4 linked regions of the Homo sapiens genome follow. The protein of the gene in region 4 interacts with the protein of the main gene of each other region in a pairwise test. Each region holds a gene or a part of one and is shown on either strand. Other genes may lie near its edges.

The links.
Region 1: the proteins of LAMP2 (region 4) and JMJD7 interact in binary tests that used the Homo sapiens proteins (3 or more experiments, as listed by UniProt).
Region 2: the proteins of LAMP2 (region 4) and TMEM176B interact in binary tests that used the Homo sapiens proteins (3 or more experiments, as listed by UniProt).
Region 3: the proteins of LAMP2 (region 4) and C11orf54 interact in binary tests that used the Homo sapiens proteins (3 or more experiments, as listed by UniProt).

What each region holds. Positions count from the first base shown.
Region 1 is NC_000015.10:41,831,076-41,838,092, forward strand, and holds the end of JMJD7 (bifunctional peptidase and (3S)-lysyl hydroxylase JMJD7), read left to right. Parts: intron 1-3,664; coding exon 3,665-3,818; intron 3,819-3,894; coding exon 3,895-4,148; intron 4,149-4,512; coding exon 4,513-4,569; intron 4,570-5,072; coding exon 5,073-5,168; intron 5,169-5,399; coding exon 5,400-5,476; intron 5,477-5,705; coding exon 5,706-5,865; intron 5,866-5,992; coding exon 5,993-6,081; 3' UTR 6,082-6,506; downstream 6,507-7,017. Other genes in the region: JMJD7-PLA2G4B protein, read left to right, coding at 3,665-3,818, 3,895-4,148, 4,513-4,569, 5,073-5,168, 5,400-5,476. UniProt on the Homo sapiens protein: Bifunctional enzyme that acts both as an endopeptidase and 2-oxoglutarate-dependent monooxygenase.
Region 2 is NC_000007.14:150,790,786-150,797,376, forward strand, and holds the end of TMEM176B (transmembrane protein 176B), read right to left. Parts: intron 5,790-6,591; coding exon of another isoform or gene 5,785-5,789; coding exon 5,581-5,784; intron 3,287-5,580; coding exon 3,176-3,286; intron 2,816-3,175; coding exon 2,759-2,815; intron 2,531-2,758; coding exon 2,303-2,530; intron 1,391-2,302; coding exon 1,271-1,390; intron 839-1,270; coding exon 746-838; 3' UTR 516-745; downstream 1-515. UniProt on the Homo sapiens protein: May play a role in the process of maturation of dendritic cells. Required for the development of cerebellar granule cells.
Region 3 is NC_000011.10:93,758,655-93,765,259, forward strand, and holds the end of C11orf54 (ester hydrolase C11orf54), read left to right. Parts: intron 1-1,087; coding exon 1,088-1,204; intron 1,205-2,860; coding exon 2,861-3,034; 3' UTR 3,035-6,095; downstream 6,096-6,605. UniProt on the Homo sapiens protein: Exhibits ester hydrolase activity on the substrate p-nitrophenyl acetate, in vitro. Regulates DNA damage and repair by regulating HIF1A degradation via chaperone-mediated autophagy (CMA).
Region 4 is NC_000023.11:120,466,287-120,473,333, reverse strand, and holds the start of LAMP2 (lysosome-associated membrane glycoprotein 2 isoform A precursor), read left to right. Parts: upstream 1-4,037; 5' UTR 4,038-4,164; coding exon 4,165-4,228; intron 4,229-7,047. UniProt on the Homo sapiens protein: Lysosomal membrane glycoprotein which plays an important role in lysosome biogenesis, lysosomal pH regulation and autophagy.

The sequences.
Region 1 (7,017 bases), on a different chromosome or scaffold from region 4:
TGGTGCTTTTTCCGGCCCACCCATGGCTGCCCATGGACCAATAGGCATGTACCTCCTCCCCTGTGAGACCCATAAAAAGCCCCTGACTCAGCCAGACCAGAAGAGACGATGGGACGACCAGCTGCGGGGAGGAGCTACCCTCTCTGCTGAGAGCTGGAGAGATGACAGGACAACCTGCCCACAGAGAGGAGCTACTCTAGCCAGGGAAGCAAGCAGGCATGCCAGCTCTTTCTTTTCCAGTATTCCTGGGCCCAGTGGGGTCTTCTCACTCAGTTACAATATTTGATCTAAGAACATTCACTTTCCAACTGATCAGAAAGTAAAGGTGACTGGCATGGTGTGGCTGTGAGAGATGCAGTGTGACCTCAGAGGTGAACATCAGTGCCGGGACCATTTGGAGCAGGATGTGGTAACCACCAAATGGAAACCACGGCCTTTTGGCTCGACCTAGAGCATGAATGTAGCAAAGCGAAGCCCTGTACACTTTATAAAAACCAGCAGAAAGACACTCCAGTCTGAGTGAGCAGCTGGAACAAAGCTCTGCTGAGCTGAACACTCAACAGGACTACCTGCCTGCAGAGAGAGGAGCTATCCTCTTTGCTGAGAGCTGAACACTCGTTGGGACACCCTGGCTGCGGAGAGGAGCTGCCCACTGTGGGTCTCCTCTGAGCTATCCTATGGCTCAGTAAAGCTCCTCTTTGTCTTGTTTACCCTCTGCTTGTCTGTGTGTACCTCATTCTTCCTGGATGCAGGACAAGAATTGGGACCTGCTGAGTGGCGGGGCTAAAAGAGCTGTAACATGAAGAGGACTGAACCATGCGTCTTGCTCGCCACATTGTGGGTGTCCAGAAGGAAAGAAGAACTGCGGCCCTTTGGGGAGTCCAGACCCAGGAGCTTCCCAAGCTGGGGTTCTGACACCCTCTTTAGGGCTCTGCGGTTCCTGGTATCTGCAAGCTTCCAGGCACCACCATGCTTCCCAGTGTCAGCTGTGGAAGCTGCTTATGGTACACCTGGTCTAGCTGCAGCCTTGCAGGAAACCAGCACCTGTGTTGGCACCTGAAGCTGCCTGCCCCACCGCAGCCCACATGCCTAGCTGTGCGCAGTGGCCAAACCCCACACTCATTCGCTCACACACCCCTCGCTGCCCCACTCGCCCTTGGCAGGTGTGGGATCCAGGCCGGTAGCATGAGCTGAGCACAGCCTGCAGGGCCGAGTGGGCCCAATGGGCCCGAGCAAAACAGGCAAAGGCATCACTGGCCACAGAGGTTTCCAGCTGGTAAAGCAACACCCCAAAGATCCCGTGACAGTTTATGGCTGCGGTGAGCTATTATTGCGTCACTGCACTTCAGCCTGGGCAACAGAGCAAGACTCTGTCTCTTAATCTCAGCGAGTACAACAGGAAGATGTACTGAGCCCCAGACCACCCCATCTCTCAAGGTGACTGCTTGGATGGGCTGGCGTGACTGGGAAGGCCTTTGCCACTTTGCTGTCTCCTGGATTCCATATCTACTGGATGGGTGCCATCTTGCCTCTAGCCAGGGAAGCAAGCAGGCACACCAACTCTTTCCTTTCCAGTATTCCTGGGCCCAGTGGGGTCTTCTCACTCAGTTACAATATTTGATCTAAGAACATTCACTTTCCAACTGATCAGAAAGTAAAGGTGACTGGCATGGTGTTGCTGTGAGAGGTGCAGCGTAACCTCAGAGGTGAACATCAGTGCTGGGACCATTTGGAGCAGCATGTGGTAACCACCAAATGGGAACCACGGCCTTCTGGCTCGACCTAGAGCATGAATGTAGCAAAGCGAAGCCCTGTACACTTTATAAAAACCAGTAGAAAGACACTCCAGTCTGAGTGAGCAGCTGGAACAAAGGTACCACCTGAATAGAGGGTGTGTGGCAAGGGCAGGCACGAGACAGGAAATCAGACTGGAAGAGTAGGTTGGGCCTGGTCATGCGTGCCAAGGCAGGCAGCATTCTCTAAGGAGCAGTGGTAAGCCATCAAGGCATTTGTTACTAGGGGTGTGACAATATGAGATTGTATTTTCAGAAGATGACTGGGGCTATGATGATGAATGCTTTGGGTGGGAGTGGAATTAAGCCAGAGAAACCAGCTAGTTCACTACTGCAACCATCCAGCCAGGATACTGGAGACTTTTATTCAACATTAGGCAAATACTTGCTGAGCACATGCTATGTGCTAGGTACTGTTCTAGGTCCCAGGGGTGCATCAGTGAACAGACAACTGTCTCTGCCCTTGTGGAGTTCACATTCTAGCAAGGGTGAAAGAATGATAAACAGTTTATGTAGGTGAAATACATATATATATATATATATATATTTTTTTTTTTTTTTTTTTTTTTTGAGATAAAGTCTTGCTCTGTCACCCAGGCTGGAGTGCAGTGGCACGATGATAGCTCATTGCAGCCTCTACCTCTTGGACTCAAGTGATCCTCTGGCTTCAGCCTCTAGCGTAGCTAGGAGTATAGGTGCATGCCACCATGTCCAGTTAATTTTTAATTTTTTTGTAGAGATGGGGTCTCCCTACGTTGCCAAGGCTGGTCTTGACCTCCCGGCCTCAGCAATCCTCCTGCCTCTGCCTCCCAAAGTGCTGGGATTACAGACATGAGCCACCACGTCTAGCCCTAAAATATATAGCATGTCAGATGGTGATGAATGCTAACGAGAAAAAATACGGAAAGGGATATAAAGATTTGCAGCAGGGGGACAGATTATAAATTTAGAAAGTATAGTCAGAGAAGGAAGTCTTATCAATGTGATATTTGAGTGAGGACCCAAAGGAGGTAGCTGGAATGTGGATGCCAGTGGAGGAGAGGAGACGGTGGGTTTGAGAGACATAGGAGACAGAATCAACAGGACTCAGAGCCAATCAGTAGGATGACGGGAGTGAAGGAGAAAGCTGAGTCAAAAAGATTTTGATTAGAGGTGACACAGGGCCACTGTAGACCCCTGCGCAGGCGGCACACCACGCAGCCTGCCGAAGTGTACGTGGTGGCCCTGGGTGTCTGGAGATGGTGATGCTGTTCAGCAGGACCCAAACCATAGCCGAGCCCTTCCTTTTCCTCCATTGGTGTCATCTGGTAGTTTGTCTTCCCGGGTAAGAAGGTTGTAAATTTCTTAAGATGATGATTGTGTCATCCCTGATAGCCCCAGATTAGCCAAGCCAAGTGCTGAGCACATTCCTGGTGCTCAGTAAATGTCACTGTTAAAGGGGGCTTCCCAGAGCCACACAACACCCAGAATAGCCCGTGGCCATGGGGCCTCAGCCTTACTCATTCTGGAGCTCCCAATGCCACTTCCATGGTGGCCTTTCCTGGTAGATGCTAGGAGGCTGGCCTCTCCAGGGTGGGAAGGCATAGGGTCCACTGTGCAGACACAGCCCCACAGGGGATTTGGCTTATGGGCTGGGTAGCAGCCTCTGGCCCTGTGGACGGTCAGGGCCCATGCTGGTGTGTGTGCGTGATGCTTTCTGCTTTCATTTTTCCGTCCTCATCTTTCTATTACTGGTTGTCCAGGGTCCTTTGGTCACCAACGAGCATTTCCCAGTGACACAGCGCGGCCTTTCCAGGGAGGGCATCTCTTGGGCAGGGACTGGGTGCTGCAGACATCAGCCCTTCCATCCCCTGTCTTCTTCTTTCTCTCAGAGCTCTGCGTGCCTCTTGCTGTGCCCTACCTGGACAAACCCCCAACTCCGCTCCACTTCTACCGGGACTGGGTCTGCCCCAACAGGCCGTGCATTATCCGCAACGCTCTGCAGCACTGGCCGGCCCTCCAGAAGTGGTCCCTCCCCTATTTCAGGTGGGAGCTGCCCTGGGGTCAGGTGTGAGCAGTGATTACTGGCATCTGGGCATGGGCTGAGTGTCCATTCCTCTAGAGCCACAGTGGGCTCCACAGAGGTGAGTGTGGCCGTGACCCCAGATGGTTACGCGGATGCCGTGAGAGGGGATCGCTTCATGATGCCAGCTGAGCGCCGCCTGCCCCTGAGCTTCGTGCTGGATGTGCTGGAGGGCCGGGCCCAGCACCCTGGAGTCCTCTATGTGCAGAAGCAGTGCTCCAACCTGCCCAGCGAGCTGCCCCAGCTGCTGCCTGATCTGGAATCCCATGTGCCCTGGGCCTCCGAAGCCCTGGGTGAGTGGAGGTGGGGTGGTCGTGGCCCTGGACAGGGAAGATATGGGAAGGAGGGGGGTCAGCCTGTTTGCCCTTAGGTGATGACCTGGCCTATGGGCTTGGTCCTGTCAGCATCTGGTGCAGCTCACTAAATACATTCCCAGGCCTTGACTTAATCATAGATGAATTGCCAAAGATTGTTGTCCTTCCTTCTGCCCCAGGGAGGGAGGACCCCTTCCCCAAGATTTCCCAACCTCTGCCTCTTCTCCCTGACCCCTTTCTTGGGATTCTTCTGTGCTCACCCAGGTTTTGGCTCTGGCATCACTGGATGGCAGCTTTCCCCAGCCTGGCCTTCCTAACTTGCTCTCTGCCTTCTGCCCTGCAGGAAAGATGCCCGATGCTGTGAACTTCTGGCTGGGGGAGGCGGCTGCAGTGACTTCTTGTAGGTGTAAGGGGAATACAAAGGTGGGGAAGGAGCAGGTTGGGGCAGAGGGAGGGAAGACGAGGCCAGGAGTGGAGGGATGGCCCTGGGTGGAGGTTGGGCTGTTCTCTAAGATTTCTTTTGGCTTCTAGGACTCGGGCACCACAGAGGGTTTCCCCTGACAGCTGAGGTCGGGGAATGGACCCATGGCATTGGGGGCGGGTGCATTGTTTCTTCTAGACCCAAAGAAACCTCCCTGAAGGCCCGCTGGGCCAGGGGGTAAGTGTAGGAGAACTTCCCCTCTTGTTGAAGAGGAGTCCAGGGCCTGGTGAGCATCAGGTCCCTGGTAGGCAGAGTTCCAGAATGCCCATCAGAGCCCCTGGCATCTCCAGCCCACTGGCTCTGTGCGTGCTTCTCTTTTGTCATAGGACGTCTTGGGGTGCAGGGCTCTCAGCATGATGGTTTGCCTCCTCCCGTGCCCCTGCCCTCCATACCCTGCCCCCGGGCCTTCTTTCTGTTGGCAGTGCACAAGGACCACTATGAGAACCTCTACTGCGTGGTCTCAGGAGAGAAGCATTTCCTGTTCCATCCGCCCAGCGACCGGCCCTTCATCCCCTATGGTAGGGGATGTGGCCTGCAGGGAGGGGCTGGGGAACAGCTGGCCCAAGGGGGAGGGAGGCAGCAAGAGCCTGGGAGGCCAGTTCCCAGGCCTGAGGTGTGGCTGTGGCATCCCCAGTGCACCAGGGCCCCTGATCCCCTTGCCCCTGCCCAGGGCTGGCTGGGGTGGAGGAGGGTCTGGCAAGTTCCAGGCTGTTTGCAATTCCCCCACACCCTTCTCCCTTGGGCTCCAGAGCTGTACACGCCGGCAACCTACCAGCTAACTGAAGAGGGCACCTTTAAGGTGGTGGATGAAGAGGCCATGGAGAAGGTGTCTGTCCTGTTCTTGGGCTCTAGGGAGGGAGAAGGGCAGAAGCCTGGCTCTGAAGAACAGGCACAAAAGATCTGGGGAGGTGGCACCTTGCTCTGAAAAGTCTCTAAGTCTGAGGCCTTTCACTGCTGAGCCAAGCAGGGCCTGTGGTGTTGACCTTTGGAAGGGACAGAGCCTGAAGTCCTGGGGGGTCTGGGGGGCTGCTCCCTGGCATCTGATGTGTTCCCAGGTGCCCTGGATCCCACTGGACCCCTTGGCGCCAGACCTAGCACGGTACCCTAGTTACAGTCAGGCCCAGGCCCTTCGCTGCACGGTGCGGGCCGGTGAGATGCTCTATCTGCCGGCTCTGTGGTTCCACCACGTCCAGCAGTCCCAGGGCTGCATCGCAGGTGAAGAGTTGCCCAGGCCGCCTGGGGAGAGGCCCTGTCAAGGTCCAGCAGGGCCTCTGGGGGGAGGCTTGGGAGGCTCTAGGTCAGAAGAGGGATCTTCATGCTCAGATCCCCGTTCTTCCCACAGTGAATTTCTGGTATGACATGGAATACGACCTCAAGTATAGTTACTTCCAGCTGCTCGACTCCCTCACCAAGGCTTCAGGCCTTGACTGATGGAGCACTGGTGAACACCACCAAGCACGCCTCGGGGGACGGAGCCAGCCCCTCCCTGGCCAGGTCAATTCTCGAGAGAGCCTGGAGTGTGCATGCTGGCTGCTGGCCCCGGGTCCAGCATGGCTTGAGATCAGCTTTGGAGGATCTTGGAATGTGGTCATAAGGACTCAAGGTGCCAGGCAGGTCTGGGTGAGGGTTCTCAGGAAGTTGCCACACAGGTGAGCAGAGTGGGGATCAGGTGCAGCGGCACCTCTCCCCAGCGCTGTGATGTTGGGCGAGTCACTGCGTCTCGGGCATTGGTGTCCTGTCAGTAAAGAGATAATAATGGCTGTACCTCGCGGGGCTGTTGTGGGCTTGGAGATGATGTCTATGAGGACCAGCATGGAGCTGGCACACAGGACATGTTGAATAAAAGGTAGCTGTGAGTCGTATGTCCTTTTTTTTTTTTTTTTAAGATGGGGTCTCGCTCTGTCACCCAGGCTGGAGTGCAGTGGTGTGATGTCAGCTCACTGCAAGCTCCGCCTCCCAGGTTCACACTATTCTGCCTCAGCCTCCCAAGTAGCTGGGACTACAGGTGCGTGCCACCATGCCCGGCTAATTTTTTTGTATTTTTAGTAGAGACGGGGTTTCACCGTGTTAGCCAGTATGGTCTTGATCTCCTGACCTCGTGATCCACCTGCCTCGGCCTCCCAAAAGTGCTGGGATTACAGGTGTGAGCTGCTGCGCCTGGCTTATGAGTCGTATGTTCTGATCCTCCCTCTTGAAGTTGCCTTCTGTGGTCTAAGGAGGGCCTGAAGGTTCAGGTAAAAACTTCAGGGTGACCTTCACTGGGGGTGAGGGCTGGATCCCAGCCTGGGCCCAAAGAGCCGTCAGCTGCCCAAGTCCCGCTGTCCATGAGAGTCACCGCAGCCCCTCCCTGGGACAAGCAAGCAGACC
Region 2 (6,591 bases), on a different chromosome or scaffold from region 4:
ACATCTATATATTTATGTTATATCTTCATATATAAAGAAAATGGAAAAAGTCAAAATCAGTTTGCTATCATTTACAATGAAAGGAAGGAAGACTAAGGATGTGTTTATGTGTGTGTGGAGACAGGAAAAGAGACAGAACCAACACTAATTACTGCAAAACGAAAAAAGAGAAAGGAAGGAAGACAGGGAGGGAGGGGGCAAAAATCTCATTCCATGCTCCACACAGTTCTCTTAAGTCTACAGGCCGAGGTTGTAGGAGCCTAGACAATCTCAGCAGGTAAGAAGATTCTAGGCCCACTAGACTTACACTTTACACTGAATTGAAGAAAATCATAAAAAGGGGTTTTGCCACCTGGATGTACAGCAGAACATAATTAAATTTAATCTTCTTGGGACAGTGTTTTAATGGGATAAATCAGCTCCCATTTAACCTCATACATAGCGACACAAAGAAAGGCCTTTCATGGCGCACGAGGTGTATAAACAAAGGGAAACCATATCTTTCTGGGCAAAACTGCTTTTCTGGATTGTTTATTATGTTTAATCAGCATTGTGGAAAATGCAACAATATCTGTTCATGGACTTGAGAACCCCAGAGTGGGAACAGCAGGTGCGGATGTGGGGAGAAGAAAGGAGGAGGGTCTGGAGAGCGGCCATAGGGGAGGCAAGTGTGAGGAGCCAGGAGTGGGGGCCCTGGGCTGCCCTAGACAGGGACATGCGGGCACCCCGTGGGGTCTTTGGCAGCTCACAGGACAATGGCAGTGGAGGTCTGCTCCCTAGAGGGCGAAGGGGGCACTGAATTCTCCCCCAGTAGCCTCTTCTCTGATCCTTCCTCATTCTGGAAAAAAAAGAAAAAAGAAATCCTTAGGGGAAAAGGATGCAGGCAGAGTTAGTATCATAGAACTCAGAAAGCAGAAAGAGGAAAGGAGGAGGGAAAGGAAAAGGTGACAGGAAAAGCAGATCAGGCAAAAAAAAAACAAGGTGGCAGAGGAAGGGGAGTCAGACGAACACCTGGGACAGGGCAGAGGGGAGAGTGGGGAGATCAGAGCAGAGGAGGGCGCAGAGAGGCACAGGGCGGCGACAGTTGGCCCAGGACCATGGTGATGGCCACATTCCCCAGACAGCAAAGGGGAGAGCTGCATATGGAAAGAAGCTGAGGGGCACCAGGCCCAGCCTCAGGTTCGGGTGCCCCTGGCCCCGCACTCCTACCTGTCCCACACACTCACCACCCAGACTCACGCTGCCCAGAGGCCCCTCCCCGACAACTCACCAGGGGCTGGGAGCTCTGGCCACACAAGTTTCGAAGACCTACTCCCAAGGAAACCAAGGACACAATGACCTTCAAGACACAGACAGCCAGGAACAGGGCACGGATTGCTGTGAACAACTTCTGGAGATAAGGGAAGAACAAAGATAGTCAGGTGTCAGCTACTCCAATGCTGCCCACATCACCACCCTCTCCACCCACCCAGGCACTGACTCTATCCAGCTTGCTGCTCCCACCACAGCTGACTGTGTTTCCAGCCACAGCTTCCATCCCGTTGGCTTGTCTGCAGAGTGAACTTATCACTCCCTGTCAAGAAGTGGAGACTATTCCTTCAACCCGTAGAATCTGGAAGGGCCTAGAACTGCTTTGGCCACAGTGAAAGTGACACTATACAGTGACAGGGAAGCCCTTAGCTGGTCTGGCAGCTTCTACTTTCTGTCTCCTGAAATGCTTGCAACTAGGGTACTCCCCATTGGAATCCAGTTTCTGTGCTATGAGAAGCCCAAGCCAAGTGGAGAAGCCATTGCCGGCTCTTGCTGACAGCCCCCGCTGAGCTCCGGACCATGCAACTACATCATCTCAGACCTCCAGCCTCGGCGAGCACTTGGATAACTTCACCCCCATCTGACTGTAACTGCATGAGAAAACCCGTGAGTGAGAATGGCTCATCTGAATCCAGCCAACTCACAGCACCGTGAGAAATAATAAGTTGTCATTTTAAGCCACTACATTTTGGTGTGGTTTTTAATTCAGTAATGGAAAACTGTGATACCAACACACCAGAAAAGCCAGAAGGGTGACCCACTATCTCCTCTCTGAAATGTCTCCTCTTTGTTCCTCACCCTCCTTGATTCAGAGAATCTTCGTGTCATGAGGTCTGAAAAATGTCTGTAGCTTACATTAAAACCTCCTGAATGAAAGACCCAGCATGAAGTCCAAGCTCAAAGAGCCTACATCTCTGTCCTCCAGGGCCCCCAGCTCCCTGGGAAAAAAGAGCTGTGATGGGTCCCCGAAGACTGGACTCTTCCTGCTCACCCTCAGCATCTGCATGTAAGCTCTACACTCCTCCTTCTGCCATTGGTTCTCTTGACTTCGCCGCATCCATCTGTACCCAGTGGTAGGGAAGACAGGGTCTGAGCGATCACACACAGTGTCGATGTATAAAAAGGGTTCAGTTTGCCAGATGAAGCTATTCACGCAGAGGACAACAGCAGCCATAGCTGTAGCAAAGCCTGCCAGGGTGAGCAGGCTGGATATATAGCCCTGGAAGAGAAAGAGGGTCATGACACACGCTCCTTCAATCGGTGGAAGAGTCATGAGGTCCCCGCCTCAAATCCCTCTCCTCTTCCCCAGCCCTTGTCCAGGAAACCCTCTCCTCCCCTCCAAGAAAGACCCCAAGATATTGACAACCAAAGGGCAGAAGACAGATAATGGAGCAGAATTCAGGAGGGGGTCAGTGAACAAGGTGGAGAGAGGGTGTCCAAGACTCACAGCAAGTTTGCCCGGGTGCTTCTCATGGACAATGGCCCCAGCTCCTGCTGCGATCACCTGAAAAGAGACACCAGAAAAAGGCCTCCAGTTTACTCTTCTGAATTGGTCTATCATCACCCTCCCACCAGCAGTTCCCAGAATAGCCAATGTGAAGCAGGATCCCAGGGACAGACAAAGAACTCTGACACACAGACCAGGATTCCACCTATACCTGCCCCACCCCTCCCATCTGTCTTCAAGAGAAAAATGGAAGTGACAGGGTTTTAGCTACACCCCAGAGCAGCCTCCTCATGGCCAAAGGCCATTTGGCTCCAGAGACTTTGGTCGCTTCCCCAAAGCCCCAACCAAGATCCATAAGCGCCTTCTTGCCCATCACCACTTGCCTCCCTCCAGGCTCACAGCCTGTTCCTTACTCACCACAGACCCCGCCCAGAAGGCACAGCCTGAGGCACTCAGCACAGTCCAGGGCCCCAAGCTGAGACACACTCCAAGAACACAACTCACAACCCCCAGCAATATCTGAGTCACCTGCAAGACAGGATGAGAAACCAGACCCCTTCCCGTGAGTCCACATGCCCCGGCTGCCCTGGGACCAGCTGCCTGGCTCCTACCTAGGTGGCTCTCCTCTCCTTTTCCTCTGCCTTGACCTCTCTGCAGCTCTGATTCTGGAAGATTCTGTCCCCTTAAAATCCATGAAGCAGCACTGGCCTGGGTCTCCCCTCACCCTTCTCATAGGCTTGGCTATTTATCCTTCATCAATTTTTCCCAACTTCAACACTTTCTCATCCCACCTGAAGATTCCCACTTTTCCCCCCCCATTCTCCTTCAGAGGTCCCATTGTCCCATCCAAACCCCCAGCCTGACCTGAGCTTCTGGCCTATCCTTTCTCTTCAGATCCAAACACACACTCTTGAGGGCTCTGTGGCAGACACAAAGAAGTGCCGCTGAGACCTCCTTCAAGAAAGGGCTTGTTTGATTGCTGACAGCCTGCAGTTGTCAGCTCCTTCAGGGTCACCCTAATTTTTCAAGCTGAAGACACACACTGAGGAGGGCCCCCCAGCCAATGATTAAGCAAGACAGTGGCTCAAGGGCCATCTCCACCCAGTGTGGAACTCCTGCAGTGGGCAACCTTTGCCTGGGAGCTCCCCCACTGGCCTGGCAGAGTCTGCATTGCAGCCTGATGGTTCCTCCTGCTCAATCCTGCTCCCCCTCTTTTCATTTCATAGGTGTCATACCCCAATAAGCCGTTCACACACCCAACTCCGACTCAGAAGAGAACTCCTCTTCTTCCTGGAAAACCCAACTGTCACCACCTCCACATCCTACCAGCATCTCGGATTTGTCACATCCAAATCCCCTACTACCACACACACACACACACACACACACACACACACACACACACCTCTCGAATGGCTGCTCCTCCTGACTTTCAGGGCTCCGATCTCCTGGTCACCCACACTTCAACCCTCTCTGCATGCTGTGAATGCCTCTCTTTCCTTATGCCCCAAACCCCTTCACTCCCATGCCATGGAGGTCTGTGAAGGACAGGGACTCCTTTGTCTCCTCACCATTTCTGCTATGATTATGTGAGTGCAGATCCTCGATCCTTCTCACCTGGATGCCTCCTGACTCTGAGGCAGGTTCCTGCTCAGAATCCATTGACAGCGTTCTCACTGTCAAAGCTGATTCAGGACAGACTCCTCACCTGGTCGTTCAAGGCTCTCAGCAATATGGGCCCAAATCACCCATTCATGAAGCCCATTCCCTTTACTCTTAACCATTATAGAACTTGCCCTATGCCTTCTGGCCTCTTTGCCTTTGCTCCTGCCATTCTTTAACCTGGAATTCTTTTTTGTCCATCTTCCACCTCTGTCTATACCTATTCCTTCTCCATTCAGGGTTCTCCTGCCCTCAAGGATGTCAGATGTGCTTCTCCCTCACCTGATCTACCTTTAGTTCCAGTCATTAGTGTAGCTGCTGTTCCTTCTGATGGTCACTGAGTACTTTTAGATATAGCCCAGGGATTCTCTCTGTAGCTTGGCCTGAAGTGCTGAACACATTGCCTTGCACCTGTAGGCTTTCAGTCCATGTGGGGTCAATAAAACCGAATTAACAGCCTCTAGACTGTTCTTCCTGTTGCCCTACCTCTGGCTGGGACCGACTCCTCTGTGCCAAAGAGGAGGTCGATTCTTCCTTTCCATCCAAATTTCTGTGGGGACACTTACAACTTTTTCCTACACAGAATGAGATATAAATAGTGATTTCTCATGTCCCTCTCATGGGAATTCAACCCACTTTCCTCTTTTGCATCCTATTGAAGAAGGAGAGTTTCCACTGTGAAAGCTGAGCCTACAAATGGGGTCATTCTTGTCACACTCAACTAAAACAGAGTCGAGAGGCCAGGGGCAAAAAGCACTCGGGGCACAAAATGTTGCTCCCAAAATGTAATTCTCTACAAATCAGGCTGCTGAAGCTGCCTGCTGCAACCTGAAACCAGCTTTATCTACAGCTTCTGACCTTGCTACAACTCTAGGATTAGTTTTACTCATGCCATCGCTCACCCATCAGAGCTCACCAGCTCCCCAAAACCTATGATCTTTCATGAAGGGCAATATGTAACATTTCTCCTTTTTATAAGCCTCTAACCTTCTCTTTGTTCTAAAGACATACTGGAGACCACCTGGTCTGTGTGTATGCCCCAAATTGCAATTCTCTCCTCCCAAATAAAACGTTTTAATTTTGAAGATTTGGCTCTATATTTTAATTGACCTCATCACCTCGTTAACGTGCCCCCCAACCCCGCACCACCCCAGTCTTACCCCTAGAGCCAGCTGCTCATAACCAATCCTGGCTGTGGAAGGCACAGTGTCCCCAGGGTGAAAAAGAAACTTCTTCAGAGAACCTCCAGCTTTCAGCAGTTGTGTCAAAGCTGACTCCTGGTGGATGTGGACGTTGACGTGGGTGGGCTGGGATGGCCTAGAGGCCATAGCAACTCCATTCACAATCACCGTGTTTTGCGTCATCCTGCCTGCCAGGGAGAAGACATATAGCAGTGAGGTCTGGGAACTAGGCGAGGGAAAAATACACAGCACAGGTGAAAGGAGAGAAATAGTGTCTTTGTCAAGATCCCAGCTGGGCACAATAGCTCACGCCTGTAATCCCAGTGCTTTGGGAGGCTGAGGTGGGTGGATTACCTGAGGTCAGGAGTTCAAGACCAGCCTGGCCAATGTGGCAAAACTCCCTCTCTACTAAAAATACAAAAATCCGCACGGTGGTGTGCACCTGTAGTCCCAGCTACTCAGGAGGCTGAGGCAGGAGAATCACTTCAACCTGGGAGGCTGAGGTTGCAGTGAGCTCAGATCTTGCCACTGCACTCCAGCCTGGGCAACAGAGTGAGACTCCATCTCAAAAAAAACAAAAACAAACAAACAAACAAACAAAAAACAGTGTCTTTGTCAAAATTCAAAGGGGCTTCCCAGTGCAGATATCAATGGCACTGGAAATCAATAGTGATTTTACACATAAAAAAGTTAAGAGATACAAAAGGGTATATATACCTTTAAAACCTTATCGCTCATCTTTTTCCCTCAACCACCTATTTGCCTTGCAGATGCAAAGTAATATTATCAGTCTCTTATAAATCCTACCATGACATTTTTGCATACAAAAGTGTGAAAAAGTATTTCTGCCCCCTTTTCCCACAAATAGCAGCATACTATACACACTGATTTGCATGATGCTGTGATCACACGATCATATGTTTTTAGAATAATCCTACATGAGTCCATAAAAAGTGTCAACCTAAATAACAGAGAGAGGCTCTCCAAAAG
Region 3 (6,605 bases), on a different chromosome or scaffold from region 4:
CTGACACACCAGCCCCCTGCCGTCCCGGCCCCTTCTGGATTTGGGGCGCTGACACGAGCGTAGAAGGGAAGCTGAGCGGCGGCTGAGAGCAGCTCCCCACTGGCCTTCAGGCACCCCTTGGCACCTACAGCCTGGATTCCGTGATCGGCAGCAGGAGGCAGACAGGTTCCGGGGCAGAAGGGGGCGGGTTTCCGGTGAGGCCCCACTTTCGGGCCAGGGAAGGCCTGAAGGCTGGGGGCCCAGCTGCCAATCCCACACACCAGAGTGGAAACTTGTGGTGCTTTTTCCAGGCCCACTGTGATCATCCCACTGCACTCCAGCCTGGGTGACAGAGCCAGACCCTGTCAGGAAACAACAGATGCTGGAGAGGTTGTGGAAAAATAGGAATGCTTTTACACTGTTGGTGGGAGTGTAAATTAGTTCAACCATTGTGGAAGTCAGTGTGGTGATTCCTCAAGGATCTAGAACTGGAAATACCATTTGACCCGGCAATCCCATTACTGGGCATATACCCAAAGGATTATAAATCATTCTGTGATAAAGATACACGCACACATATGTTTATTGCAGCACTATTCACAATAGCAAAGACTTGGAACCAACTCAAATGACTGGATTAAGAAAATGTGGTACATATACACCATGGAATACTATGCAGCCATAAAAAAGGATGAATTTATGTCCTTTTCAGGGACATGGATGAAGCTGGAAACCATCATTCTCAGCAAACTATCACAAGATCAGAAAACCAAACACCCCATGTTCTCACTCATAAGTGGGTTGTTGAACAATGGGAACACATGGACACAGGGAGGGGAACATCACACACCGGGGCCTTTCGGGGAGTGGGGGACTAGGGGAGGGATAGCATTAGGAGAAATACCTAATGTAGGTGACAGGTTGATGGGTGCAGCAAACCACCAGGGTACGTGTATACCTATATAACAAAACTGCATGTTCTACACATGTAACCCAGAACTTCAAGTATAATTAAACAATAATAATAAATAAGTAAAATATATTTTTAAAATTTTTAATTCTTAGTAATATTCAGTATGTTTACCTATGTAATTATCTTTTGTTGTAGCCTGCAGAATTTTCTTCCTGCCCCTTGAACTCTGATGAAGAAGTGAATAAATGGTTGCATTTTTATGAAATGAAAGCTCCTTTGGTTTGTCTACCAGTTTTTGTCTCCAGAGACCCAGTAAGTCTGTGTCTGTTTTTTATATTATACTACAATGATAATGCTTGATTTTTAGGATAATCTTTAAGAACTAGGCACTTTTGTGTTTGTTGTTGTTGTTGTTTTGAGACAGAGTTTCACTCTTGTTGCCCAGGCTAGAGTGCAATGGCAGGATCTCAGCTTACTGCAACCTCCGCCTCCTGGGTTCAAGCGATTCTCCTGCCTCAGCCTCCCGGGTAGCTGGGATTATAGGCATCTGCCACCATGCCTGGCTAATTTTTGTATATTTAGTAGACGGGGTTTCACCACGTTGGTCAGGCTGGTCTCAAACCACTGACCTCAGGTGATCCACCCACCTCTGCCTCCCAAAGTGTTGGGATTACAAGCATGAGCCACCATGCCCGGCCATGTGTTGTTGTTATTTAAGAATGAGGGTAGCCTCTAGAATTATTTTGGAAGATAAGGGAGCTCTTCACCATCCTATGAGTTAGGCAGAGCAGATTTTACCTTTGAGAAAATGAAGGCACAAGCATTTTAAATAACACCCAAAATTATTTTATTAAATAGCAGGTGTAGTTGGGCATGGTCACATGCCCCAGTATTCTTAGCTACTGAGGAGGCTGACTTGAACCCAGAAGTTTGAGACCAGCCTGGGTAACAGTATAATCCCCATCTCAAAAAAAACAATTAGTAGAGTCACAACTAGGATTCAGGTCTCCTGTCATCTTGTTTGGTGTTCATTATATTATAATACTATACGCTAGAAAAAATATTACAGACCAATTCAAAGCAAATACCTACTAAAATATTGGTCATATCTTCTCTTTTTTTTATTTTTTGTGACAGAGTCTCGCTCTGTTGCCCAGGCTGGAGTGCAGTGATGCAATCTCGGCTCACTGCAACCTCCGCCTCTTGGGTTCATGTGGTTCTCCTGCCTCACCCTCCTGAGTAGCTGGGATTACCGGTACTCACCACCACACCCGGCTAATTTTTGTATTTTCAGTAGAGACAGGGTTTCGCCATGTTGACCAGGCTGGTCTCGAGCTCCTGACCTCAAGTGATCCGCCCGCCTCAGCCTCCCAAAGTGGTGGGATTACAGGCATGAGCTACTCCGCCTACCCTGGTCATATCTTGATCCAGTGATTACATGCCTAGGATATTATACTTAAATATATGCATAATTGTGTAAAATTACTAGTTAAAAGGTTATTATTACAGTATTGTTGTAGTAGCAAAAGAATTAGAAATAATGCAAGTGTCAGTTGAGAAGTTACATACGCAATAGAATACCATGCAGGTATAAAAGAATGAGGAAGCTCTTTTATGATTTCATATACAAAGATCTCAAAACTATATTGTTACATGAAAAAAAGTTACATGCAGAAAAGTGTGTACAAAATACTACATTTGAGTAAAAATAAAAGTAAGTATTTATGGAAGGATATACAAGAAAATGCTTACACTGGTTACCTGCTAGGAAGGGGAGTGAGTGGTGAGGGCAAGAGAGAAGAAGATACATTTTACTGAATACATCGTTTTGCCCCCTTTGAATTTAGAACATGTGAATGTATTACCTATTTAAAAAATAAAAACTATTGCAACGTAAAAAGTTATCCCTCCCCCTTAAACTCTAATCAATAATTTGAGTACTAACATATTGTTTGTCTGTTATCTTAGGGGTTTGATTTGCGACTGGAGCACACTCATTTTTTTAGTCGTCATGGAGAAGGTGGACACTACCATTATGACACTACTCCAGATATAGTGGAATATCTTGGATACTTCTTACCTGCAGAGTTTCTCTATCGCATTGATCAACCAAAAGAGACGCATTCAATTGGGCGAGATTAAATCAGCTGATACTTATTTAGAAAAAGAAATAATTAAGGTTAATTAATTGATTGACTTATTAATTAATACTGATATAAAACCAATAGAAATGATCCCACAGGCCAGGCACAATGGCTCATGCCTATAATCCCAGCACTTTGGGAGGCTGAGGCAGGAAGCACACTGGAGCCCAGGAGTTTGAGACCAGCTTGGGCAACATAGCAAGACCCTGTCTATTTTTTTAAAAAAGTAAAAAATAGAAATTATCTCACTACTTAAATCCCATTTTTTTCACTTCATATGAAAGAACATATTGATAGTATATTCTATATTATTTCATAGATCTGTCTGAAAGAGATTGGGAACAAAAATATCTAATTGAGATATTCTTTAATTTTTTACATAGCAGCTTTATTTTTTTTATTCTGTAGTATCAGCGAAATCAGTCATGTTTATACCTTGAATATAAATATCAGGAATCATGCAATTATTTCTACTATGTATTTAGTAGTATCTTATATTTGTATAACATTATTACATTTTGCAAATTAGTATCACAACTGCTAAGTAGATGTTTCTGAGTATTAGAAAAATCAGTGTTATTACCTGCAGGATATTAAAAAACATTTGAAAAAGAGAAAAAGAAAAATCAGTGTTTAGAAATGTTGATAGTTATTGAATCTTTGAATTGAATTTTAAAAATCCATTCTAGTAATCAGAGTATACTTTTTTTATAGAACAAGGTGGCAGGTGGGGAGCCCTTTACCCTTCTGGTGAAGTTAAACCATAGAAGTTTACAATTTGCCTTTCACAAACATTAGCAGTCCGGGCATGGTGGCTGAAGCCTGTGATCCCAGCATGTTGGGAGGCCGAGTGGGAGGATTGCCTGAGCCTAGGAGTTTAAACCAGCCTGGGCACCATGGTGAGACCCCATCTCTATTATTTAAAATGTTTCTTAAATAAAAAAAACACAAACATTAGCAACTAGTTGGCTAGCCATAATTCCTCCCTTGTTTCGATTGCCAGTTAGAAGCAATTTTTATTTCACTGGTTATTTGCAAGAGAAGGGGTAAAAAAACAGCATCAGAGTGCAACACTGAAGTGAGCTTACTTTAATTTGTAAGTGAAGCTGTTGCTGAACATGACCACTATCGTTGCTGAAATATAAAATTATACTCACTGATTGTAATGGTTGAAATTTTCCTGAATAATCATTAGCCAAAGATCAACTCTCTAATGGTGCTAATGGCAATCTAGCTAATGTGCAAATTTAGGAAGTCTTCAGTACTAAGTACATAATTTTCAAATAATATTTTTTAATTGTCTACTTTGGATGTTAGCTATGTCTTGTGAGTATAAATTCCAATTTTAAGCACTATTTTGATGCAAAAAAATGAATAAAAAATTTAATTTATGATATGTTTGTAATATCTTACCTCCAGACAAAATAATATTAATAGTCTATCATTTAACAAATATGTATTGAACACCTACCCTTCTCTCTGGAGTGTACACTTCATGTGGGCAAGGGCCTTGTTCACGACTGTAGCACTAGTGCCTTTAACTGCTAGCAAAGTAGCCACTCGGATGATTATACCAAACACTTTACTAAAGCTGGGGATCTGTCTAGTGGGGAAGACAAACAATAAATATATAATATGTCAGGTGGTATTAAATGCTATGAAAAGAAAGGAGTAGATGGACTGTAAAGGAGGATGCTATTTTTTTGTGGCCATCCCGCACTGAGACAGGATGCATTCCACACTCAAAATTTGGTTCACATGTCCAGACTGATAGCCAAGTTCAGTGGCTCACGCCTGTAATCCTAGTACTTAGGGAGACCAAGGCAGGAGGATCACTTGAGGCCAGGAGTTCAAGGCCAGCCTGGGCAACAGAGAGAGACCCCCATCTCTGCAAAAAAAGAAAAAAAATTTTTTAATTATCTGGGCATGGTTGTGCACACCTGTTGTCCCAGCTGCTCAGGAGGCTGAGGCACGAGAATCACTTGAGCCCAGAAGTTGGAGGCTACAGTGAGCTATGATTGTTTCATTGCACTGTAGCCTGGGCAACACAGTGAGACCCTGTCTCAAAAAGAAAAAAAAAATGACTGATGAAGCCACACACACACCAACAGAGTATGAAAGGGTTGTTACTCACATAATGAAGCTTTCTGGGGAAAGCAGGGCAGCTCCTAAGCAGGATTTGACAACAGGGAAGGAGACTGACTTGGAGTTTTTTGGTGGTTAGGGAGTAGGGCCAGAGTGATGTTTCTTGCATGTGGTTTGAATTTCCCACTGGTATCAAAGAAGGAAACACCCAGGCTTGCTTGCTTTATTTTTTTAAAGAGATGGTGTCTCACTATGTTGCCCAGGCTGGGCTCAAGTCATCTTCCTGCCTCGGCCTCCCAAAGTGCTGGGATTACAGGCATGGGCCACCATGTCTGGCGAGCACCCAGGCTTTCTTAGCTTGCCAGAGGTGTAGGGCATAAGGGGACGAGGGGTGGGATAAGGCTTAAAAGCCACCAGCAGTCAAACATAAATTAAGTCAGATTCTTAATTACAGATTTCAGATCTGATTTCAGATCAGAGCTTATTTCAGGTCAGATTCCAGGTGTAGAGATCATCTGAAGCAGTCCTGGGCCTCTTCACACTACAGATACCAACACTGCCTTTACTCTTCCATTAGTGTCCTCCAAAATGGGGTGCATGGACAGCAGGTACACATGACCTTCCAAGGGGTGTGGGAATATTAGAACATCTATTTATATATTTTATTTCGTCCTTTTAAGTTTCTGTGGTTTTGTGTACATTTCTTACGTTAGGGATTTCAGTTCAAAATTGTATTGCTGATAGACACAATTCAAAAAGCTTGGAGACCAGGTACATTCACACCATCTAATAGAGATGGGGGAAAAGATCAAAATGCTTTTCTTTTTAAATTTTTTCTTAGTTTTCTTTCTTTATAGAGACAGAGTTTCGCCGTGTTGGCCAGGCTGTTCTCGAACTCCTGGCCTCAAGTGATCTGCCCGTCTCAGCCTCTCAAATTGCTGGGATTACAGGCATGAGGCACTGCACCTCACCCAAAGTGCTCTTCTTACTCTTACATTCACTCAGTATAACACAGAAAGCTTCTGTGACCAGATGCATGGGGGTTTTTCCCACACACCAAGCAATTCTCCAGCAGACATCAGCTGGGGGTCCTATAATTTAATTCAATTCTAACACTATTTACTTGGAGATAGCGTCAGATCCCACAGTTTAATGGTTCAATCCTCCAAGACTGCCTCCCACTTCCGATGCCAATCACAAGCTTCAGGTTGTGACCTGTACTTTTGACCAACCCACTGTAAATCGGGGTCTCTATGCCTACCTCTTCAGGTTTGATTAATTTGCTTAGAGCAGATCACTGAACCCAGGGAAACACTTTACTTATATTTTCCAGTTTATTAATAAAGGATATAATAAAGTATACAGATGAACAGCCAGATGGAAGAGATGCATATGGAAAGGCCAGCAGAAGTCCAGAGCTTCCACACCGTTTCTGGGTGCCCCACCTTCTAGGCATGTCCACCTGTTCAGCAATTTGGAAGCTA
Region 4 (7,047 bases):
CCCTAGATACAGCGGTACCAACAATCAAGTCAACCTTTGTGAAGCTTAGATCGGAGGGGATCTCACAGATTTCCTCAAACACTAACCCCAGTCTCACGTATACATCTGCATCTACCACCGAAAGCCAAGGAAAAGCTCCTTCAATCTGGGGCAGGGTAATGGGAGACTGTATAAGAAAAGGGATCTTTCTCACAGTGTTTTTTGGAGAAAACATTAAACATTTCTGAGTATGGAAGCTCAGTGCAAACAAAGACTTGAGAATTTTTAGCCTATTTATGCTGACAAAATACCCAGCATGTATCTACAACTTTCAAAACATTGTTGTGTCTCACGACGATGCCTGTCCCAGTCAAGGAGCCAGCATTTGTATTTGCCTGAGGAAAAGGTTGTGATGGGGGTGAGGGTGGATTTCGCTTGTAAGGCTGCTCATATTTCACTGTGTTTATTTTTTTAATTTGATGACACCTTCAAGAGATAAAGGGCGACAATTTATTACACCAGATATTTGACAAATTGGGACAGTATTTTATTTTATTTTAATTGTTAGAGACAGGGTCTCACTCATTTGCATAGGCTGGAGTGCAGTGGCGCCATCAAAGAGCACTGCAGCCTCAACCTCCTGGGCTCAAGCGACCCTCCCATCTCAGCCTCCCTGGTATCTGGGACTACAGGTGTGCACCACCATGGCTGGCTATCCTTATATATAAATATATACATATATTTTCAGAGACAGGGTCTTGCTCTGTCACCCAGGCTGGAGTGCAGTGGTGCAAACATGGCTCACTGCAGCCTCCACCTCCTGGACTTGAACAATCCTCTTGCCTCAGCCCCCAAGTAGCTGGGACTACAGGTGCACGCCACCACCCCCAGCTAATTTTTAATTTTTTGTAGAGATGGGGTTTCACCATGTTGGTCAGACTGGTCTCAAACTCCTGAGCTCAGGCAATCTGCCTGCTTTGGCTTCCCAAAGTGTTGGGATTACAGGTTTGAGCCACTGCACCTGGCCAATTTTAAATAAATGAGCATTTACTCACATAGAATCCTTGAATTATAAACCTGATGCCAACTTAGAGATCATCTGAGGCCCACCAATATTGTTTTGGGGAGTTTTGAGAAAAACACCATGCCCAGGCCTGACTTCAGATAAACTGAATCAGAATCTCAAGGGATGGGACCAAGGGGAATTTTCCACTTTTAAAGCTCCACAAGTGATTCCAACATGCAGCCAGGATCAAGAAACAGCTCTAGTCTCATTATTTCATTTTACCAATAAAGATATAGAAGTTCAAACAGATGAAGTGACCTGCCTAAGATCACACTGCCAGTAAGTGGTGTCTCACAACCAACTCCTCTGACTGCTAACCCAATGTTCTTTCCACTATGTTCTTTTTTTGTTTCTTCTTATAGAAAGAGCTTAGGGTTTTACTGAACATTAAAGTTATGCGATTTACAATTGAAAGAGAAGAGCTAGAGTCCAGGAAGTATTGGTGGGGCATCTTCAGAGGGCTCAACTCAGTTGTGGGTTCTCTGAAGACTACTATGCCCAGGACATAGCTCCTGCCAAGTCTCATTGATGGCAGTCAAAAGACATTTTGCTAAAGGCAATGACTAACACTGTATGCAGTGTTCATTAGTCTTGTGTTGGGTCACTTGTTCACAAATTAGTTTCACCTATGGTAGTAAACATTCATTGACAAATGTTCTCACTTTCAGGAATTAATTACATTAAAGCAAACAATAGTGGGGCAGATCGGTGCTTCTTAATATTTGAATTAGGGTAGGGGTTAGGGCAAGGAGTCACAGGTCCCATTGGAGAACTAGTGAAAACTACAAACTTCCCCACAAAAATACACATACATAAATGTTGCATGTAATTTCTGAGGATTCACCGACACCTCTCCCATCCTGTCTAAACTCATACATAAACTCCAGATTAAAATCTCCTGGACTAGATGATTTTGAAGCTCTCTTTCAGTGTTTTTCTCAAAGTGTGGTCCATGGACCACAGAATCAGAATCACTTGGGGTGTTTGTTAAAGAAGTGATTAATAAGACTGCCACAGACCTACTGTTTCAGAATCTCTGGGGAATGAGGTACAGGAATCTGTATGTTAAAAAAAAAAAACCCAAAACCAGATGGTTCTTTTGGAAACTAACACTTGAGAATCAGTGCTTTATTCCAACTCAAGATTTTTAAATGCTTTCATCTGTTGAATATTTTAGGTTTTGTCTGTTCATCTATCAAGTATAGCAAACAGTATGCTTAGTATGAACTCATTACAGAATATTTGTGTGTATGTACATAGGAAAAATATCTGGAAGTATAGATGTGGGTGTGTGTATATATGTGTGTAAATATATATAATAATGTTAATAGTAGGAATACAGATGATCTCTATTTTTCCGCTTTATCCTTCTGTTTTATTTCTCTCATTTTTTTCTTCCTGTGTTTAAAAAAGATGCTTCTTGTTTCTGAGCTCAATTCCCCCACCTGAGAACAGGGTGCTGTAACTAGGTGAATTTCAAGATCATGTCTTGTTCCGATGGTCCGTGACTCCATACTACCCCCTAGGTTCCCTCGTCCATCTCACAGCATGAACTGCATAGGTAACAACAGTGTTTGGAGAATAAGCATGTATTATTTTTGTATGTATTACGTTTGAGATGCCTAGCAACCGTTTTTGTGCCCGCAAAATTTTTCTCTTCTTTGTCAAGGAGCCAAAACGGAAATAGTCTACTATCTACGGCCCTCAAAAGTTCCTCCTCTCTCCTTAGCCTTAGAAAATACCGTCCGCCATAGGCATGGGCAAAGACCTCATGGCTAAAACACCAAAAGCAATCGCAACAAAAGTCAAAATTGACAAATGGGATCTAATTAAAAGAACTTCTGCACAGCAAAAGAAATTAGCATTAGCGTGAACAGGCAACCTGCAGAATGGGAGAAAATTTTTGCAATCTACCCATCTGACAAAGGTCTAATATCCAGAATCTACAAGGACCTTAAACAAATTTACAAGAAAAAAACAACCCCATCAAAAAGTGGGCAAAGGATATGACCAGACACTTCTCAAAAAAAGACATTTATGCAGCAACAAACATGAAAAAAAGCTCATTATCACTGATCATTAGAGAAAGGCAAATCAAAACCACAATGAGATACCATCTCACGCCAGTCAGAATGGTGATTATTAAAAAATCAGGAAACAATAGATGCTGGCGAGGCTGAGGAAAAATAGGAATGCTTTTACACTGTTGGTGGGAGTGTAAATTAGTTCAACTATTGTGGCAGACAGTGTGGCGATTCCTCAAAAATCTAGAACCAGAAATACCATTTGACGCATGCACACGTATGTTTATTGCAGCACTATTTACAATAGCAAAGACTTGGAACCAACCCAAATGCCCATCAATGATAGACTAGATAAAGAAAACGTGGCACATATATGCCATGGAATACTATGCAGCCATAAAAAAATGAGATCATGTCCTTTGCAGGGACATGGATGAAGCTGGAAGCCATCATCCTTAGCAAACTAACACAGGAACAGAAAACAAAACACTGCATGTTCTCACTCATAAGTGGGAGTTGAACAATGAGAACACATGGACACAGGGAGGGGAACAACACACACGGGGGCCTGTCAAGGGGTGGGGGCCAAGGGGAGGGAGAGCATTAGGAGAAATACCTAATGCATGTGGGGCTTAAAACCTAGATGACGGGTTGATAGGTGCAGTAAACCACCATGGCACATGTATACCTATGTAACAAAGCTGCACATTCTGCACATGTATCCCAGAACTTAAAGTAAAATTAAAAAAAAAAAAAAAAAAGAAAGAAAAAGAAAAAGAAAATGCCGTCCGCGCATATCTCTCAGGAGCATAGGAAGGGCTGTGAACCAAAAAGCCAGGGCGTGGTCGCCCCGCCCACCGGCCGCTACATCACCACCCCTCTCGCCGCTTTCAAGCGCGGAGATTGGCTGTAAGCAAGAAAGAGCCCCGCCCCTAGTCTTATGACTCGCACTGAAGCGCCGATTCCTGGCTTTTGCAAGGCTGTGGTCGGTGGTCATCAGTGCTCTTGACCCAGGTCCAGCGAGCCTTTTCCCTGGTGTTGCAGCTGTTGTTGTACCGCCGCCGTCGCCGCCGTCGCCGCCTGCTCTGCGGGGTCATGGTGTGCTTCCGCCTCTTCCCGGTTCCGGGCTCAGGGCTCGTTCTGGTCTGCCTAGTCCTGGGTGAGTTGTCGGGCCCTCCCGATTAGTCTGTCCGCCTGGGCCCGGGGCACCAGTTCAAAGCTACAACCTGAAAGACTGGTCCGAGGGGGAGGGGGTTGAGAGGCTCAGCAGCTAACACTGGGCGGCGGCGGTTGGCCCGGGGAGGCAAGCGGTGACCTAGAGAAGGCCTGACCGACGGATGGCGGGGAAGAAGGGCCCAGGAGAGTAAGAAGGGGCCGGTAACGGGGGGTGGACGCCGAGGGAGTAGGCTGGGAGGAGTGAAGCGTGGAGAGGGTCAGCGTGGAAAGAGTAACTTGGGGAAAACACTGAGGAGTGAGCGTAGGAGGGTGGTACATGCAGATTTTGGGCGCCAGAGACAATTAGGAGAGTCTTGGTTTGCTGAGATCAGGGAAGAGTTTTGAAGATGGTGGAAAAACTATGGGGTGAGATAGGAAATTAAGAGAGAAGACCATGCCTGCCTGGAGTAGCTTGGGAGAAGTGTGTGGGTGGGGGACAGATGGGACAGATAGGACAGTAGAGCCTGAGGGGCAGGGGCAGTGACAGGGTTGGGCATTTTGAAGGTTGGAATTTGAGACTGTGAAGAAAGGATGATTCAAGAGATTAGGAGTGATGCTGGGTTTGAGTTTGGTAGTCATAGTTTTAAGGGCGAAGGAACCTAAGGTAGCTGGGGCAATTTCCAGGAAAGAAAACTTGGACCCAACCTCTGGAGACTAAGGGGTTCAGGGGGAACTTTGATGGGGAGTGCACATCTGACTTGGAGGTATTGAGGATGTCGATTTTCTCCCAGTTTTGCTACTTCCTCCCAGCCAGACGCTGACAAAAAAATCCCCAGACGTTTCAGTTAGGAGGGCCTCCCAGATGTGAGGTTTTGGGGGTGGAGTATTTGAGTTTGGTAGACTACCTCTTTGCCTTCAGAGTTTCTTCTTTTCTTTCTTCCCCATCACACAGCTAGCCTATTACCTCATATTTTGGGGGTGCAGGGAGCAGGTAGACAAACTTGCTAAGGATTGGGTTGTTACCAGGGCCTAAGAATGGCTGGATGGGGCCGGGCGTGGTGGCTCATGCCTGTAATCCCAGCACTTTGGGAGGCCGAGGTGGGTGTATCACCTGAGGTCAGGAATTCAAGACCAGCCTGGCCAACATGGTGAAACCCCGTCTCTACTAAAAATACAAAAATTAGCCGGGCGTCGTGGCACATGCCTGTAATCCCAGCTGCTTGGGCGGCTGAGGCAGGAGAATCGCTTGAACCCAGAAGGCGGAGGTTGCAGTGAGCCAAGATTGCGCCATTGCACTCCAGCCTGGGCGACAAGAGTGAAACTCTGTCTCAAAAAATAAAAATAAATAAATCAATAAATAAATGGCTGGGTGAATGTTCGCTGATTGTGTTGTGCCCTAATAGGCAGTGGGTCGCTAACAACTTTAATGCCTAAAAGTGAACTTTGACTAAAGTGTCTCTTCCTGACTTTGATTCATGCTGTGCTTGTTGCTACCCACCTGCTCTTGCTATTTGTGACTTAATAAAATAACATAAAGAACAGACCCAGATGGGAGTGGGGAAGAAATAGACATATTAGGGGTCTGAGAAAGCAGTGAGAGGTATACATTTTGTAATTCACATTTCAGTAGAATGAAATCAACACCCTGGAATAGTGATTCTCAACCAGGGGACATTTGGCAACATCTGGAGACATTTTTGGTTGTAACAACTGGGGGATTGCTTTTAGCATCTAGTGGGTAGAGGCCAAGGATGCTGCTAAACATCCTAACTAAGCACAGGGCAGCCCCTGACAACAAAGAATCATCTCCCTGAAAATGTCAATGGTGCCAACATTGATAAATCCTGCTCGAAAACCATAGTATTGGAAGGGTTCTTGATTATCTAATTCAGTGACTCTCGAGGACCTTTTCATGCGTCTGTGAAATCAAAACTTCGGAATAAGGTTAAGAAGGTATTTGTCCTTTTCTGCTGGGCACAGTGGCTCACGCCTGTAATCCCAGCACTTTGGGAGGCTGAGGCGGGCGGATCACCTGAGATCAGGAGTTCAAGACCAGCCTGACCAACATGGTGAAACCCAGTCTCTACTAAAAATAGAAAAATTAGCCGGTGTCGTGGCACATGCCTGTAATCCCAGCTACTTGGGAGGCCGAGGCAGGAGAATCGCTTGAACCCAGGAGGCGGAGGTTGCGGTGAGCCAAGATTGCGCCACTGCATTCCAGCCTGGGCAACATGAGCGAAACTCTGTCTCAAAAAAAAAAAAAAAAAAAGAAGTTATTTGTCCTTTGTCCTTTTCACTCTCATCCTCTCACCAGTGTACAGCAGAGTTTTCCAGTGGCTACGTAACATGTGATGACCTCACCACTCTGATGTTCTTATATTTTATTCATTTCTCAGTTTTAATTTCTAATACTGTAAATACCAATACATATGACTCACATAAACCTCTGTGAAGTCCTCAGTGGATAAGAAAGTAAAGGGGTCCTGACACCAAAACTTTGGGAATCCCTGATGTAGTCCAACTGTTCACAGCGCGCAGGAAACTCTTCTGTAGCACTTCTGAAAGGCGGCCTTGAGGCAGGCTTTGCTTGAATACTTAATTGGAAGCCTTAACTGTACCTTGGAGCACTTACTGAGGGCCAACTGACCCTAAGAAAGGATTGTTTACAATGGAAAGTACCTTATCAGTGACTAGAACACATCTGACCAAGGCATCTGTTAATCAGTAGTTCCCTGCCAATTGAATCTGTGCACAAATACAACACTGTTATTGTTTTGGGAAAGTGAAAAAAATAATAGTTGTCCTACTTGTTGGCTTTCATGT